Linked DNA regions of Homo sapiens: region 2 is linked to region 1. The links come from fine-mapping of genetic effects on gene expression. A gene starts in region 1. The other region holds a variant in brackets. All regions are shown on one strand. Distances are between the middles of the regions.

What was found. PIP is the estimated chance that this variant, and not a neighbour inherited with it, causes the effect.
Region 2: its variant is fine-mapped to the expression of SHFL in whole blood (TOPMed, PIP above 0.99).

What each region holds. Positions count from the first base shown.
Region 1 is chr19:10,081,173-10,089,501 of GRCh38, reverse strand. SHFL (shiftless antiviral inhibitor of ribosomal frameshifting) reads right to left here and starts at 3,185. Exons shown (of 8, transcript NM_018381.4): 1 at 3,054-3,185; 2 at 2,450-2,573; 3 at 2,202-2,251. The coding sequence starts at 3,074. RefSeq lists silencers at 2,917-3,196, 3,267-3,486.
Region 2 is chr19:10,121,918-10,130,246 of GRCh38, reverse strand. No RefSeq gene overlaps it. Among named protein-coding and RNA genes, the nearest start is that of EIF3G, 6.2 kb to the right of the region's middle. The variant T/C (reference allele first, on the strand shown) is at 3,738.

The DNA.
Region 1 (8,329 bases):
CCTCAGTTGTCCTCATAGCAGCCCTGAGAGGTGGGCACACCTGTTACCTTATTGCTCAGATGGGGAAACTGAGGCTTAGGGGAGGGCTTGCCTGAGTGAGGCTAGCCTGACCCCCATACTCACTTCCTGCCTGCAAATGCCACATGCTTGTTGATGTTGTGACATATCGCCCCTTTGAGGCCACGTTGTGCTCGGCTAAGTGGGAGAGAGATGTGGGTTCAAATCCCAGCTGTATCACTTCCAGCTGTGGGGACTTGGGCAAGCCACTCCCTGCCCCCTGGGTTCCCACTGACAGGCATGTTAGAGCCCAGGCTCTGACTCCAGGTGGCCAGGGTTCAAATCGCAGCTGCCCCTGCTTGCTGGCAAGTGACTTCGGCCTCAGTTTCTTTGTCTGTGAAATGGGGATAAATAATAGGACCTGTCTCCTGGGGTCACTGCAGTGATGAAATAAATAAATTCCTGGAATCTTGCCATGTGGGAAGTACTCAATGAATGCTACTCTCTGCTAATATTATTATTATTATTATTATTATTATTATTATTATTATATTTTTGAGACGGAGTTTCGCTCTTGTCTCCCAGGCTAGAGTGCAATGGCACAATCTTGGCTGACTGCAACCTCTGCCTCCCAGGTTCAAGTGATTCTTCTGCCTTAGCCTGCCAAGTAGCTGGGATTACAAGCATGCACTGCCACGCCCAGCTAATTTTTTGTATTTTTAATAGAGAAGGGGTTTCACCGTGTTGGCCAGGCTAATCTCGAACTCCTGACCTCAAGTGATCTGCCCGCCTCAACCTCCCAAAGTGCTGGAATTACAGGCGTGAGCCACCACACCTGGCCCCTCTGCTATCATTTTTATCATACTTTTATATGTATAAATGTAGACTATGATACATGTTTTGTTATACTCTGGTTTTGTTTGTTTTTGTTTGTTTGAGACGGAGAATCGCTCTGTTGCCCAGGCTGGAGTGCAGTGGTGCGATCTCGGCTCACTGCAAGCTCCGCCTCCCGGGTTCACGCCATTCTCCTGCCTCAGCCTCCTGAGTAGCTGGGACTACAGGGGCCTGCCAGCACAACTGGCTAATTTTTTTTTTCGTATTTTTAGTATAGATGGGGTTTCACCATGTTAGCCAGGATGGTCTCGATCTCCTGACCTCATGATCCGCCCGCCTTGGCCTCCCAAAGTGCTGGGATTACAGGCGTGAGCCACCGCGCCCGGCATTTTTTTTTTTTTTTTTTTTTTGAGACAGAGTTTCGCTCTTGTTGCCCAGGCTGGAGTGCAATGGTGTGATCTCAGCTCACTGCAACCTCCGCCTCCTGGGTTCAAGTGATTCTCCTGCCTCAGCCTCCCGAGTAGCTGGGATTACAGGCATGCGCCACCATGCCCAGCTAATTTTGTATTTTTTAGTAGAGACGGGTTTCTCCATGTTGGTCAGGCTGGTCTCAAACTCCCGACCTCAGGTGATCCGCCCGCCTCGGCCTCCCAAAATGTTGGGATTGCAGGCGTGAGCCACCGCGCCTGGCCTATTATACTCTTTAACAGCCCTACACTAAGCCTTTCAGGCAGGCTAAATCCACAGCGTTCCCATCACCAAAGCTGTCAAAGAAGCAAAGTAGCCATGATGCACCTGTGCTTCAAAGCCATTCATTCATTCATTCATTCATTCATTCATTCATTCATTCAACACAAGGGTTCCATTCCCCTGCCTCTCTCTCCTCCCCAATCCTCTGCTCATCCTAGCCTTTCTAGAGACTGCCACTAACAACCCTTCCCCACCTCCCAGCCTTTGCTTATGCCATTCCCTCCCCCACCCCAAGACCCCTGCCTTTCTTTCCCTTTCCCCTCCCAGGGCTCACTCCTCCCCATCCTTTAAGACTTGGTACCTCCTCCTCCAGTAAGCCTTCTCTGACCTCTGCGCCCCCGCTATGATGGCAATAATCCTGGCTCCTTTCATTGCTTAGTTTCATGGCTCTCTCCCCCATTGAATACAATCAGCACATAATGAGCGCCTACTGTTTGCAGGCTCCCTGGCCGGACAAATGATGGAGAGGTGAAAAAGTGAGATTGGGTGATGAGTTATGGACCGACAATGCCTGGTCCCTCCTGTTTCAGAGGGGGGTCAGTCACCATGAACGGGTCGGGTCCCCCCTCTTGCTCTCCCTCCCGTGACCCGGTCCTTTGCGAGGGGAGGGGATAGGTTACCTGGGCATCCAGATCGTTACTTAGTTCTTGGCCATCTTTTTGCTTTACCCCTGCGGGGGAGAGTGCATATAAGGGAAGGGCCCTTGAAGGGTCTGTGGGAGTTCCAGGCCACCCAGAGCCGCGACGCAGAGCCTCCCCAAGGCTGGGACCTCCGGGGGAGGTGATCTCAACGCCTCTCCCTAGACCACGCCCCCTCGGCGCTCCCACGCGCGGTCCCCGCACCAGGCCCGGGACCCCTGCAGCCTCACCGTACACGATGGAGCGCCCCACTCCCGTGTGGTCGCTGCCGAATTTCCTCATCAGAGCCCCCGCCTTCTTGGAGGATACCTTCCCATGAAACTTCTCCCGGAGGCGCCGGACGCTCTTCTCCAGCTGGGATGGAGACAGGGGGGTTCCGGTGGGGGAAGGGGAAACGGGATCATCCCTCCCCCATCTCTAGGCACCGTTCTCCCGGCCCGAACTTGACCCTTGGTTTTGGCCTCCGCCGCCCCCCCCCCGCCTTTCATCCCTTTACGGCATTTCCTGGAAAAAGCCAAAGTCCCCACAGGGCGTTGGGGGAAGGCGCGGACTGGGGCGAGCGTCCCAGCCTAAGGTGTGGGGGGGCGGCCAGGTTATCTCTGGCCTCTGACCTTTGACCCTGCAGCCCCCGCTTTTCCTCGGGGAGGCCTCATTTCGCTCTGGGGAAACGTGGGAGTCACTTTCCTTTTCAAGGGGGGCGAGCGCCAGGCAGGGGTAAGGATCTGGGGTTCTAGGATGGGGGTCCCCAGGAACTGCGAAGCCCCCTCCGCGCCTCCCGGCCGCTCCTCGGGGTCTGTCGCGGCTGACCCCGGCCCAGCCGTAGCCATCGCTTACCTCCACACCTTCCTGAGACATGGTGGCGGCGGCGCAGTTCCCCGCGAGGGTCCGCACTGCGCGGCTCAGCCGCCCCCCTACCTGGGTGCGCCCGTCGGTCCAGCAGCCGCGCAGGGCAGGGGGCGGTGCCTCGGGGCCGGCTCCGCCCTTCCTCCCCGGCCCCTGTTTCGCTTTCGATTCAGGGGGGACCCGGCGCGCTGGCTCCGCCCTGGCTCCGCCTCTGCTCTTGCGCCCCAAACCCAGGCGGGCGCCCCGGGTCTGCACCCTGCGGCGGAGCGCGCAGACCTCGGACGGGGGAGGCGGCGCGGCCTCTGCAGTCGGTCACATGTCCCCACGCTGCGCGGGGTCCGCGTCTTCACGTCCCTCGTGGGGGCGGGGCCGCATCAGAAGGCCGCGGCGAGGCCCCGCGCCCCCCCACCCAGCGCGCGCTCCCCCAGTTCATCACCCTCCTCTCTGTTCTCCCTCCTTCCCCGGGAATCTGGCGCTCATGAGGACCTGGGCCCTTTTCCTGCCCTGAGTCTCTGTCCTAGCTACGGTCACCTCTCTCAACCTCAGTTTACCCCTCTGTGAAATGGGGAGAATCCTGGTGTCTACACCATGGAGTGGAGTATGTGCCAAGATTCCCGAGTGGATCGCGTAATAGCGCCTGGCTTGCAGTAGGCGTTCAACTAGTCACTGGGCCACCTGCTGTGTGCCCTTGATAGGGGCAGGCAGTGTGTGTGTGGTTGGGGGGAGCGGTGCTTGAGAAAAATACAGATTCTTGGTCTCTAGTAGCCCGGTAGAATCCGGCTGTCTCAGGGATCCAGGGAATCTGCAATGGTTAAGAACCCCGTGGGACGGACAATTCTAACCCAGTACAGGGCACATCAGGGAGCCCTTAGGTGGTGGGGCTCTGGCCCAGCCTGGGGACACAGAGATGGCAACTTCATTGGAGGAGGGGATGCTTTGTAGAGTCACTGAAATTGGAGGTCTTAGCTAGGGGAGGAATAGAGTGGGGAGATGAGGCAGCCGTGCAGAGCCCCCAAAGCAAGACTAAGTCTGGGGTTTTTGGGCAATGGCTTCTCAAGCCCAGCACTCTTGACACTTTGGGCGGCCTAGTTCTTTGTGTGGGGGACTGTCCTGTGTATTGGGGGACATTTAACACCATCCCTGGCCTCCACCCACTAGATGCCAGTGGTTCCCTACTCTCCCTGTTGTGACTACCAAAAACGTCTCCAGAGACTGCCGGATACTCTCTGAGGAGCAAAATAGCATTGTGTTCAACGACTCCAAATTTTTTTCTCCATTGCACACCCCTATAGGTAAAAGTGTTAAAGTTACACCCCCAGATGGATATTTATTCATTTATTTATTTTTTGAGACAAGATCTTGCTCTGTTGCCCAGGCTGGAGTGCAGTGGTTTGATGGTGGCTCACTGCAGCCTCTAACTCCTGGGCTCAAACGATCCTCCTGCCTCAGCCTGCTAAGTAGCTGGGACTACTGGCATATGCCACTATGCCTGGTTAATTTTCTATTTTTTTTGTAGAGACGGGGTCTCACTATGTTGCCCAGGCTGGTCTCAAACTCCTGGCCTCAAAGATGGATATTATTTATAAATTATATACAAATACAATTATATCAATATATTCTGTTAACTGTTATATAAAATATTGATAGATAAATGGAGCTGGGCATGATGGTTCACACCTGTAATGCTAGCACTTTGGGAGGTCAAGGTGGGAGAATCACTGGAGGTCAGGAGTTCAAAACCAGCCTGGGCAACATAGCAAGACCTTGTCTTTAAAAAAAGAAAAAAGAAAAGGAAAAAGTTATTTTTAAAAGACTAAAAAACAAACAATAAAACCCCCCAAATCTAGATATTCTAAAGTTTTTCCAGTTGAACCCCAAAGCTTTGTTTATAGGGTGTATGTACTCCACTCTGGAGACTACTGTATTTGCAAACTACAAGCAGTTCATGATTCCTTGTGGCTGAATGGTGGAATCCTAGGCAGGATGGGGGCTGGAAACTGCACAGAAGACCTGGGATTTTATCCTGAGGGAAGTGGCGAGGTTTGGAGTGGATCGCCTGTCATAGTTGCCAGTTACTAATCTATTTGCCCAGTGCAGAGGGAGGTCATAGCTATGTCCCATTCACTGGCCGAGATGGGCACTGAGTGGGCAGGAAACAGGTAAGAGTCTGAGCTAGCCCTGACATAAATCAGATCTGGTAGGTTTTTTGTTTTTTGATTTTTTTTTTTAGCGCAGAATATGCAGACCAAAGGTCTGTTAGGTTATAATCACCGTGGCAACCACATAGAGCGTGTACTCTGTTCCCAATGCTGTTCCAGGCACTGTGGACATGACAGCAAACAAAACAAAGATCCCTGCCCTCGTAGAGCTAGCATTTTTTTAAATTTGTTTTAAGAGACGGGGTCTCACTCTGTCACCCAGGCTGGCGTGCAGTGGCACAATCATAGCTCCGCTGCAGCCTCAACCTCCTGAGCTCAAGCAATCCTCCGGCCTTGGCCTTCTGAGTAGCTGGGACTGCAGGTATGTGCCACCACATCCGGCTAATTTGTTTGTTATTTTGTTGTTGTTTTGTTTGGGTTTTGTTTTTGTTTTGAGACAGAGTCTTGCTCTGTCACCCAGGTTGCAGTGCAGTGGCACGATCTCGGCTCGCTGCAACCTCTGCCTCCCGGGTTCAGGCAATTCTCCTGCCTCAGCCTCCCGAGTAGTTGGGACTACATGCATGTGCCACCACTCCCGGCTAATTTTTATACTTTTTTGTAGAGCTGGGGGCGGGGGGGTCTCACTATGTTGCCCAGGCTGGTCTTGAACCCCTGGGCTTAAGTGATCCTGTTGCCTTGGCCTCCCAAAATGCTGGGATTTCAGGTGTGAGTCACTGCACCTGGTCCATCCTTATGATTTCATGTGGTCTTTGTAGCTTAGGACTTGAGAAATGGCTTTGCTGCTGGGCTGTTCTGGCTCAGGGCCTCTCAGAAGGTTGCAGTTAAGGAGTTGGTCAGGGCTTCAGTCATCTGAAGGTTTGACGGGGGCTGGCGAATCTGCTTCCAAGGTGGCTCACTCTCAGGGCATGCAGATGGGTGCTATGATTGGCGGGATGCCTCGATTCCTCCCAGTATACTTGAGTGGCATGAGTGTACTCCCAGCATGGGAGCTGGCCTCCCGAGCACCTTCCAAGAGCTGAGAGCCAGGTGGAAGTTGTATCTTTTTATGATCTAGCCTGAAAGTCCCACATCACTTCAGCCACATTATGTACATTAAAAGCTCATTGACTGGGCACAGTGGCTCATGCCTGTAATCTCGGCACTTGGGAAGCCAAGGCAGGAGGATCACTTGAGGCCAGGATTTCGAGGCCATGCTGGGCAACATAGTGAGACCCCATCAGCCAGGCGCGGTGGCTCACTCTTGTAACCCCAGCACTTTACGAGACCAAAGTAGGTGGATCACCTGAGGTCAGGAATTCGAGACCAGCCTGGCTAACATGGAAACCTCATCTCTACTAAAAATACAAAAATTAGCTGGGCGTGGTGGCGGGTACCTGTAATCCCAGCTATTTGGGAGGCTGAGGCAGGAAAATCACTTGAACCCAGGAGGCAGAGGTTGCAGTGAGCCAAGATTATGCCACTGCACTCCAGCCTGGGTGACAGAGCAAGACTCTGTCTCAAAACCAAAACGAAACAAAACAAAACAAAACAAAAAAAGCAGCAAATCTTGACCTGGAACTGGACCCTTGGAGGCTTAAGCTGGGCGACTGTGTTCAATTATGGAGGAAGGCCGGGTGCAGTGGCTCACACCTGTAATCCCAGCACTTTGGGAGGCCCAGGAGGGCAGATCACTTGAGGCCAAGAGTTCGAAACCAGCCTGGCCAACATGGCAAAATCCTGTCTACTAAAAATACAAAAAATAGCCAGGCATGGTGGTGTGTGCCTGTAGTCCCAGCTACTCGGGAGGCTGAGGTGGGGGAATCACTTGAACCCGGGAGGCAGAGGTTGCCGTGAGCCGAGATCGCACAACTACACTCCAGCCTGGGCAATAGAGTGAGACTCCATCTCAAAAAAAAAAAAAAATTGCTGGGCACGGTGGCTCACGCCTGTAATCCCAGCACCTTGGGAGGCTGAGAGCCCAAGGTGGGGATCACCTGAGGTCGGGAGTTCCAGACCAGCCTGACCAACATGGAGAAACCCTGTCTCTACTAAAAATACAAAATTAGCCAGGCATGGTGGCGCATGCCTGTAATCCTAGCTACTCGGGAGGCTGAGGCAGGAGAATTGCTTGAACCCAGGAGGCGGAGGTTGCGGTGAGCCGAGATCGTGCCATTGTACTCCAGCCTGGGCAACAAGAGCAAAACTCCATCTCAAAAAAAAAAAAAAAAAGAAAAGAAAAAAAATATTGTGGAGGAGATGGAGACCATTGGAGCATGTGCATGCTTTTCACAATCTAGTCAATTTCCCACTCCAGTTGAGTCAAATGAAAAATTGATCGGGAATGCTCAGAGCTGGAGAAGCTGTAGGGAAATGAGAAATCTCCCAAATCATTAGAGACAGCATCCGTTGGTGAAACCTTTTGGGAAGGACACCATGGAAAAATCTACTACTAAACTATTAAGCATGCTGGATTAATCATGTCTCTCATTTTCTGTTGCTGTCTTCTTCTTCTCTTTGTCCTTCTCCTTCCTCCTCCTCCTTCCTCCTCCTCCCTCCTCCTCCTTCTCTTCCTCCTCCTCCTCCTCTTATTCTTCTTCCTTTTTTTTGTTTTTGAGATGGAGTCTCGCTCTGTCGCCCAGGCTGGAGTGCAGTGGTGCGATCTCGGCTCACTGCAAGATCCGCCTCCCGGGTTCATGCCATTCTCCTGCCTCAGCCTCCCAAGTAGCTGGAACTACAGGCGCCCACCACCACGCCCAGTTAATTTTTTGTATTTTTAGTAGAGACGGGGTTTCACCGTGTTAACCAGGATGGTCTTGATCTCCTGACCTCATGATCTGCCTGCCTCAGCCTCCCAAAGTGCTGGGATTACAAGCGTGAGCTACTGCGCCTGGCCTTTTTTTTTTTTTTTTTTTTTTTGAGACAGAGTCTTGCTCTGCCACCCAGACTGGAGTGCCGTGTCATCATCATAGCTCACTGCAGCCTTGAATTCCTGGGCTCGAGCGATCCTCCTGCCTCAGCCTCCCAAGTAGCTGTGACGATAGGTGTGCACCATCATGTCAGCTAATTTTATTATTTGTGTAGAGACGGGGTCTCACTATGTTGCCTGGGCTGATCTTGACCTCCTGGGCT
Region 2 (8,329 bases), 41 kb before region 1:
TTGGGAGGCCCAGGCAGGTGGATCACCTGAGGTCAGGAGTTTAAGACCACCCTGGCCAACAGGGTGAAACCCCATCTCTAGTATAAATACAAAAATCAGCCAGGTGTGGTACATGCCTGTAATCCCAGCTACTTGGGAGATTGAGGCAGAATTGCTTGAACCTGGGAGGCGGCGGCTGCAGTGAGCCACGATCACACCACCACACTCCAGCCTGGGCAACAAAGCGAGACTGTCTCGAAAAAAAAATAAACTGTCTTGCACCTCGAAGGTTGTCTTACCTAGGAATCTCTCTTGTTCCTCTATTTTTGAAAATTGGGGTAGAATATGAAATATGCGAGTCCTAAATGTTCAGCTTAAATTTCGAGAAGTGAACATAGCACTGTAGCCTATATCCTTATCAAGATAGAGAATGTCTCTGTCACCTCAGGTCACCTTGTGCCTCTTCCCACTTGATCTCCCCCTTCCCAGTCCCTGGGCAGCCTCCCATCCAGTTTTGTCTCCATAGATGACACCTGCCTGTTCAGGCCAGCATGGGCTCTTGTGTTTCAGATCTTTCAGCATAAATGCCTTTGGGATTCATCCATGTCATTAATATGTGTATCAGTTTTGTCCTTTTTAAAAAAAATATATATATATTTTAGAGGCAGGATCTTGCTCTGTTGCCCAGGCTGGAGTGCAGCGATGTTCTACTGCAGCCTTGATCTCCTGGGCTTAAGTGATCCTCCTGCCTCAGCCTCCTGAGTAGCTGGAACTACAGGCGCATGCCACCATGCCCAGCTAAGTTTTACATTTTTTTTGTGGAGATGGGGTCTCACTGTGTTGCTCAGGGTGGTCTCAAACTCCTGGCCTCACGTGATCCTCCCACCTCAGCTTCTGTAGTAGCTGGGACCACAGGCATGTGCCGCCATACCCAGCTAATCATTATTTTTATTTTTATTTATTTTTGAGACGGAATCTCACTCTGTCACCAGGCTGGAGTACGGTGGTGCGATCTTGGCTCACTGCAACCTCTGCCTCCTGGGTTCAAGCTATTCTCATGCCTCAGTCTCCCGAGTAGCTGGGATTACAGGCCTGCCACCAGGCCTGGCTAATTTCTATGTTTTTAGTAGAGATGGGGTTTCGCCATGTTGGCCAGGCTGGTCTCAGACTCCTGGGCTCAAGCGATCTGCCTGCCTCGGCCTCCCAAAGTGCTGGGATTACAGACATGAGCTACCATGCCTGGTAGCTGATTTTTATATTTTTTTATAGACAGGATCTCGCTTTGTTGCCCAGGCTGGTCTCAGAATCCTGGGCTCAAGCGATCTACCTGCCTTGGCATCCCCAAATGCTGGGATTATAGGCATGAACCACTGCGCCTGGACAAGAATATATTAACTATACTCACTATGTTATACAATAAATCTCTTAGAAAGCCTTTATTTGAACTTTTTTTCTTTATATTGTTTGGAAACAACTACAGTCTCAAGAGCAGTAGATTGAATTGTGATGCAGGTCAGGCCTTTGTATCCAAGGGTTCCACCTCTGGCATTCAACCAACCACAGATTTAAAATATTCAGAAAAATTCCACAAAGTTCCAAAAAGCAAAACTTGTATTTGCCACTTACCAAGTACTACATGGAATCCATGAGAATAAAGCAACGTGTAGACGTTATGTCAGGTATTACAAATAATCTAGAGACGACATAAAGTACACAGGAGAGGCCGGGCGCAGTGGGTCATGCCTGTAATCCCAGCACTTTGGGAGGCCAAGGTAGGAGGAACACTTGAGGCCAGGAGTTCAAGACCAGCCTGGCCAACATGGCGAAACACCTTCTCTACAAAAAATAACAAAAATTTGCTGAGCATGGTGGCACACACCTGTAGTCCCAGCTACTCCAGAGGCTGAGATGGGAGGATCACTTGAGCCCAGCAGGTGGAGGTTGCATTAAGCCGAGATTGCACTAGCCTGGGTGACAAAGCAAGACTCTGTCAAAAAGTAGTGTACACAGGAGAATATGTGTAGCGTATATGCAAATACTATGCCATTTTATTTTATTTTATTTTATTTTATATTTGAGACAGAGTCTCACTCTGTCGCCCAGGCTGGAGTGCAGTAGCACAATCTTGGCTCACTGCAACCTCTGCTTCCCGGGTTCAAGTGATTCTCCTGCCTCAGCCTCCCAAGTAACTGAGATTACAGGCATGTGCCGCCACGCCCGGCTAATTTTTTTGTATTTTTAGTAGAGACGGGGTTTCACCATGTTGGTCAAGCTGGTCTTGAACTCCTGACCTCAAATGATCCACCCGCCTCAGCCTCCCAAAGTGCTGGAACTACAGGTGTGAGCCACCATGCCCGGCCTATGACATTTTATATTAGGGATTTGAGCACATTCTGATTTTGGTACCACATGGGGTCCTAGAACCAATCCCCTGGGGATACCGAGGGATGGCTGGACATAGATTTGTATACACATGTGTATCCACGTCTAGGCTACTTTTCTAGGAGTTGAATGACTGGATTGAAACTTTAGAACTGGCACAGCCGCTAAAAGTCAAGCAGGTGTTTTATAGGGATTTCATTAACTTTGCAGACTTCTGGAAGAATTGACATGTTAATGACAAGCCTTCCTTTCTAAGAACAGGGTTTGTCCTGTTTGTTCAGGAATTCCTTTGTGTCCACAGCTTTTCATCCAGATCTTGCAGACTTCATAACTTGATTCCTAAGTATTTAGTCCCTTCATTACTAATATAAATGGGATGTTTTCTTGATTTCTAAACCATGGTCCTTTGCCTATGGAGAGATGCTCCATTTGTATTGGCTGTGATTTTGTAAACTGTGTTTTTTGAATCTAACCAACTTGTTGAATTCCTTTTTTTTTTTTTTTTTGGAGATGGAGTCTCACTCTGTCACCCAAGCTGCAGTGCAGTGGCGCGATCTCTGCTCACTGCAACCTCCATCTTTGGGTTCAAGGGATTCTCTTGCCTCAGCCTCCTGAGTAGCTGAGATTACAGGCATGGGCCATCACACCCAGCTAATGTTTGTATTTTTAGTAGAGATGGGGTTTCACCATGTTGGCCAGGCTGGTCTTGAACTCCTGACCTCGGGTGATCCGCTTGCCTCAGCCTCCCAAAGTGCTAGGATTACAGGTGTGAACCACCGCGCCTGGCCTGAATTTCCTTGTTTTTAATCCCACTTTTTCAGTGGTCACATTTTCAGGTATACGATCCTTCACCAAGAACAACTTGAGGATGTATTTTGGTGTAAGAATTAGAAACCTTGTCTTTTCTTTTTAGAGACAGGGTCTTGTTCTTTCACCCAGACTGGACTGCAGTGATGCGATCATAGCTCACTGCAGCCTCGAACTCCTTCGCTCCAGAGATCCCCCAACCTCAGTCTCTGGAGTAGCTGGGACTACAAGTATGTACCATCACGCCTAACTAATTTTTATTTTTATTTTTAGTAAAGATGAGTTCTTGCTATGTTGCCCAGGCTGGTCTCAAACTCCTGGGCTCCAATGATCGTCCCTCCTCATCCTTCCAAAGTGCTGGGATTACAGGTGTAAGCCACCGTGCCTGGCTTCTTTTTTTTTCCTTTTAATATATGATTATTTTTTGTAAAGATGGCGTCTCACTCTGTTGCCCAGGCTGGTCTCCAGTGATTTCAATTCTTGTAAGTATAAAGCAGATGTGGAAGTGCTGGGTCATTTGGTGGTTCTATTTTTAATGTTTTGAGGAACCACCATACCATAGTTCATAG[T/C]GGAAGGCTGTTTTTTAAATGAAATAAACATGTAAGGCTGAGGTGCCCATCTACTTCCCTAGAAAAACCACAGTAAGGACATTGCCACGTCTCCTTTCTGCCCCTGTTTTTTGGCTGTTACCACATCTGCATGTCCATCAATTTAGTATTTCTTTCTTTTTATCTCTATTTACTTTTTTTTTTTTTTTGAGATGGAGTCTCTGTTGCCTAGGCTGGAGTGCAATGGCGCAATCTTGGTTCGCTGCAACCTCCGCCTCCTGGGTTCAAGTGATTCTCCTGCCTCAGCCTCCTTAGTAGCTGGGATTACAGGCACGCACCACCACGCCCAGCTGTTTTTTTTTTTTTTCTTTTGAAACAGAGTTACCTTCTCGTTGCCCAGGCTGGACTGCAATGGCAGGATCTCGGCTCACCACAACCTCTGCCTCCTGGGTTCAAGCGATTCTCCTGCCTCAGCCTCCTGAGTAGCTGGGATTACAGGCATGCGCCACCACGCCCAGCTAATTTTGTATTTTTAGGAGAGACAGGGTTTCTCCATGTTGGTCAGGCTGGTCTCGAACTCCCAACCTCAGGTGATCCACCTACCTTGGCCTCCCAAAGTGCTGGGATTACAGGCGTGAGCCACCATGCCTGGCCACACCCAGCTGATTTTTGTATTTTTAGTAGAGATGGGGTATCATCATGTTGGCCAGGCTCGTCTCGAACTCCTGACCTCAAGTGATCCTCCCACCTCGGCCTCCCAAAGTGCTGGGATTACAGGTGTGAGCCACCGCGCATGGCCTATTTTTATTTTTTTTTACAAAGTCTTGGCCGGGTGCGGCGGCTCACACCTATAATCCTAGCACTTTGGGAGGCCAAGACAGGCGAATCACCTGAGTTTGGAGTTCAAGACTAGCCTGGCCAACATGGAGAAACCCCGTCTCTACTAAAAATACAAAATTAGCTGGGCATGGTGGCACATGCCTGTAATTCCAGCTACTAGGGAAGCTGAGGCAGGAGAATCACTTGAACCCGGGAGGTGGAGGTTGCGGTGAGCTAAGATCATGCCACTGCACTCCAGCCTGGGCAACAAGAGCAAAACTCCATCTCAAAAAAAAAAAAGGAGTCTCACTCCATCGCCCAGGCTGGAGTTCAGTGGCGCAGTATTGGTTCATGGCAACCTCTGCCTCCCGGGTTCAAGGGATTGCCATGCCTCAGCCTCCCGAGCAGCTGGGATTACAGATGCCTGCCACCACACCTGGCTAATTTTTGTATTTGTAGTAGACAACAGGGGTTTCGCTATGTTGGCCAGGCTGGTCTCGAACTCCTGACCTCAAGGGATCCGCCCACCTTGGCCTCCCAATGTGCTGGGATTACAGACGTGATCCACTGTGCCCAGCAGAAACAGGACCTTTAGAGAGAAAATTAAACCCAGGTGTGGTGGCTTATGCCTGTAATCCCAGCACGTTGGGAGGCCGTGGCAGGCAAACCACTTGAGATCAGGAGTTTGAGACCAGCCTGGCCAACTTGGTGAAACCCCGTCTCTACTAGAAATACAAAAATACAAAAATTAGCCAGGTGTGGTGGCACATGCCTGTAGACCCAGCTACTCGGGAGGCTGAGGCAGGAGAATCACTGGAACCCAGGAGGTGGAGGTTGCCATTAGCTGAGATTGCACCACTGCACTCCAGCCTGGACTACAGAGTGAGACTTCACCTTTAAAAAAAATAATTAAAAAAAAAAAGTTTAAATGAGGTCATTAGGGTGGGCCCTAATCCAATATGACTGATGTCCTTAGAAGAAGAGATTGGGACATAGACACACACAGAGGAGGCCACGTGAGGACCGAGGGAGAAGGTGCCCCCACCTCAGAAGAAACCAACCCTGCCGACACTGTGATCTTGGACTTCCAGCCTCCAGAACTGAGAAAATAAATGTGTGCTGTTTAAGCCTCCTAGTCTGTGATATTTTGTTGTGAAAATGTGAGAAAAAGTAACTAATGTTAAGCTGGGTTTGCTCAATTCTGCTTTCCAGCGTAATTTCACAAAGCCCCTGACTCTGAGACACGTGAGACACGTCTGCGCAGCTCTACAGAACAAGGCTTTGAAGACAAAACAGGACAGAGCACAGGGCACACCATGTCCCTTGCCCGAGTCACTATATTCCTTAAATGAGTCTGGGCACGGTGGTTCATGCCTGTGATCCCAGCATTTTGGGAGACCAGGGCAAGGGCATCACCTTAGCCTGGGGAGGTTGAGGCTGCAGTGAGCTGTGATCGTGCCACTGCACTCCAGCCTGGGTGACAGAGAAAGACCCTGTCTCAAAAAAAAAAAAAAAAAAAAAAAGGCGTGCCAGGTGCGGTGGCTCATGCCTGTAATCCCAGCACTTTGGGAGGCCCAGGCAGGCGGATCACCTGAGGTCGGGAGTTCGAGACTACCCTGACCAATATGGAGAAACCCCCGTCTCTACTAAAAATACAAAATTAGCCGGGTGTGGTGGTGTGCATGCCTGTAATCCCAGCTACTCAGGAGGCTGAGGCGGGAGAACCGCTTGAACCCAGGAGGCGGAGGTTGCAGTGAGCTGAGATCGCACCACTGCACTCCAGCCTGGGCAATAGAGCAAGACTCCGTCCCCCAAAAAAAAAAGAAAAAAGAAAAAAAGGACCTGGGCCGGGCACGGGTGGGTCACACCTGTAATCCCAGCACTTTGGGAGGCCAAGGTGGGCGGATCACAAGGTCGGGAGATCAAGACCATCCTGGCTAACACGGTGAAACCCCATCTCGACTAAACATACAAAAATTAGCTGGGCGTGGTGGCGGGTGCCTGTAGTCCCAGCTACTCAGGAGGCTGAGGCAGGAGAATGGCGTGAACCCAGGAGGCGGAGCTTGCAGTGAGCCGAGATTGTGCCACTGCCCTCCAGCCTGGGCAACAGAGTGAGACTCCATCTCAAAAAAAAAAAAAAAAAAAAGGACCTGGTTCAAACCTTTTCCTACACATAAAATAACATCTAATGGGGTCAGGGTATTATGCTTCTGTAATCTATAACCAGATGTACTCTTGCACCCAAACCTTGATGTGGCTCACACCTGTGTAATCCCAGCACTTGGCTCATGGCAGCCTCACCTCCTGGGCTCCAGCGATTCTCCTGCCTCAGCCTCCTGAGTAGCTGGGATTACAGACATGCACCAACATGCTCAGGTAATTTTTGTATTTTTAATAGAGATGGGTTTTCACCACGTTTTCCAGGCTGGTCTTGATCTCCTGACCTCAGGTCATCTGCCTGCCTTGGCCTCCCAAAGTGCTGGGATTACAGACGTGAGCCACTGTGCTCAGCCTCTTTCTTTTTTAGAGACAGGGTTTTTGCTCTGTCACCCAGGCCAGAGTGTAATGGCACAATCATAGCTCACTGCAGCCTTGACCTCCTGGGCTCAAGCAATCCTCCTACCTCAGCCTCCCAGGTAGCTGGGACTACAGGCGTGCATTACCACACCCAGCAATTTTTTGTGTGTAGTGATGGGGTCTCAATGATGTTGCCTAGTCTGGTCTTGAACTCCTGGGCTCAAGAAATCTTTCTGCCTTGGCCTCCAAAACTGCTGGGATTATAGGCACGAACCACAGTGCCCAGCCAAGAAATATATTTATATGTTACATCTCACATATATTACATAAATGCATATTATATATTAATACATGTCCAAAAATAATATTTCCTTTCTTGGTGCCTTCTTTCCAAAGCATTCCTCATTAACAGGTTCTGATTCTTTCTTTCCAGGAAATGATTTGCATATATCTGCATATCTATGTGCTGTTGAAGATTTACACAAATTGGTTCCTGTAATATATGCCATTTTATATATCGCTTCCTCTTTTTTTTTTTTTTTTTTTTGAGATGGAGTCTTGCTCTGTCGCCCAGGCTGGAGTGCAATGGCGATTCTCCTGCCTCAGCCTCCCAAGTAGCTGGGATTACAGGCACCCACCACCATGGCCAGATTTTTTTTTTTTTTTTTTTGTATTTTTAGTAGAGACGGCATCTCACCATGTTGGCCAGGGGCTGGTCTTGAACTCCTAACCTCAGGTGATCCACCCACCTCGGCCTCCCGATTACAGGTGCCCAGCCTGTTTCCCTATAACATCTTTACTACCACGGGGTGATATCGAATTTTTGAAGCTTTGCCCAATCTGCTGGGTTGTTTGGATTTTGTGTTGCTCAGAGTACATTTGAGTAAGCTTGTAAAAATGTTTATCAGTCCTTTGGACCAGCTTCATATTTTCACCAATATAGCCAGGCCACCCTCCTGAAAGGCCACAGCGGCGTGCCTCTCTTTCCTGCTCTCCAGCTAATGTTTTCCCTTCCACTTGGCTCTCTACAGGCTTCTAGAATAATTTTTTCCACAAGAAAAGTTGGTGATATTCCAAACACTTGAGTGGCCTCCTCACTCACAACTCAGAGGATAAAAAAGCATAAACTTTTTTTTCCTGTCTTCTTATTTATTTTTCTCAGGGCATTCTCCCTTACAAGTTATTTTTTGTTTTGTTGCGTGTGTGTGTGTGCGTGTGTGTGTTTTTGAGACAGGGTCTCTCTCTGTTACCCAGGCTGAAGTACAGTCGCATGATCA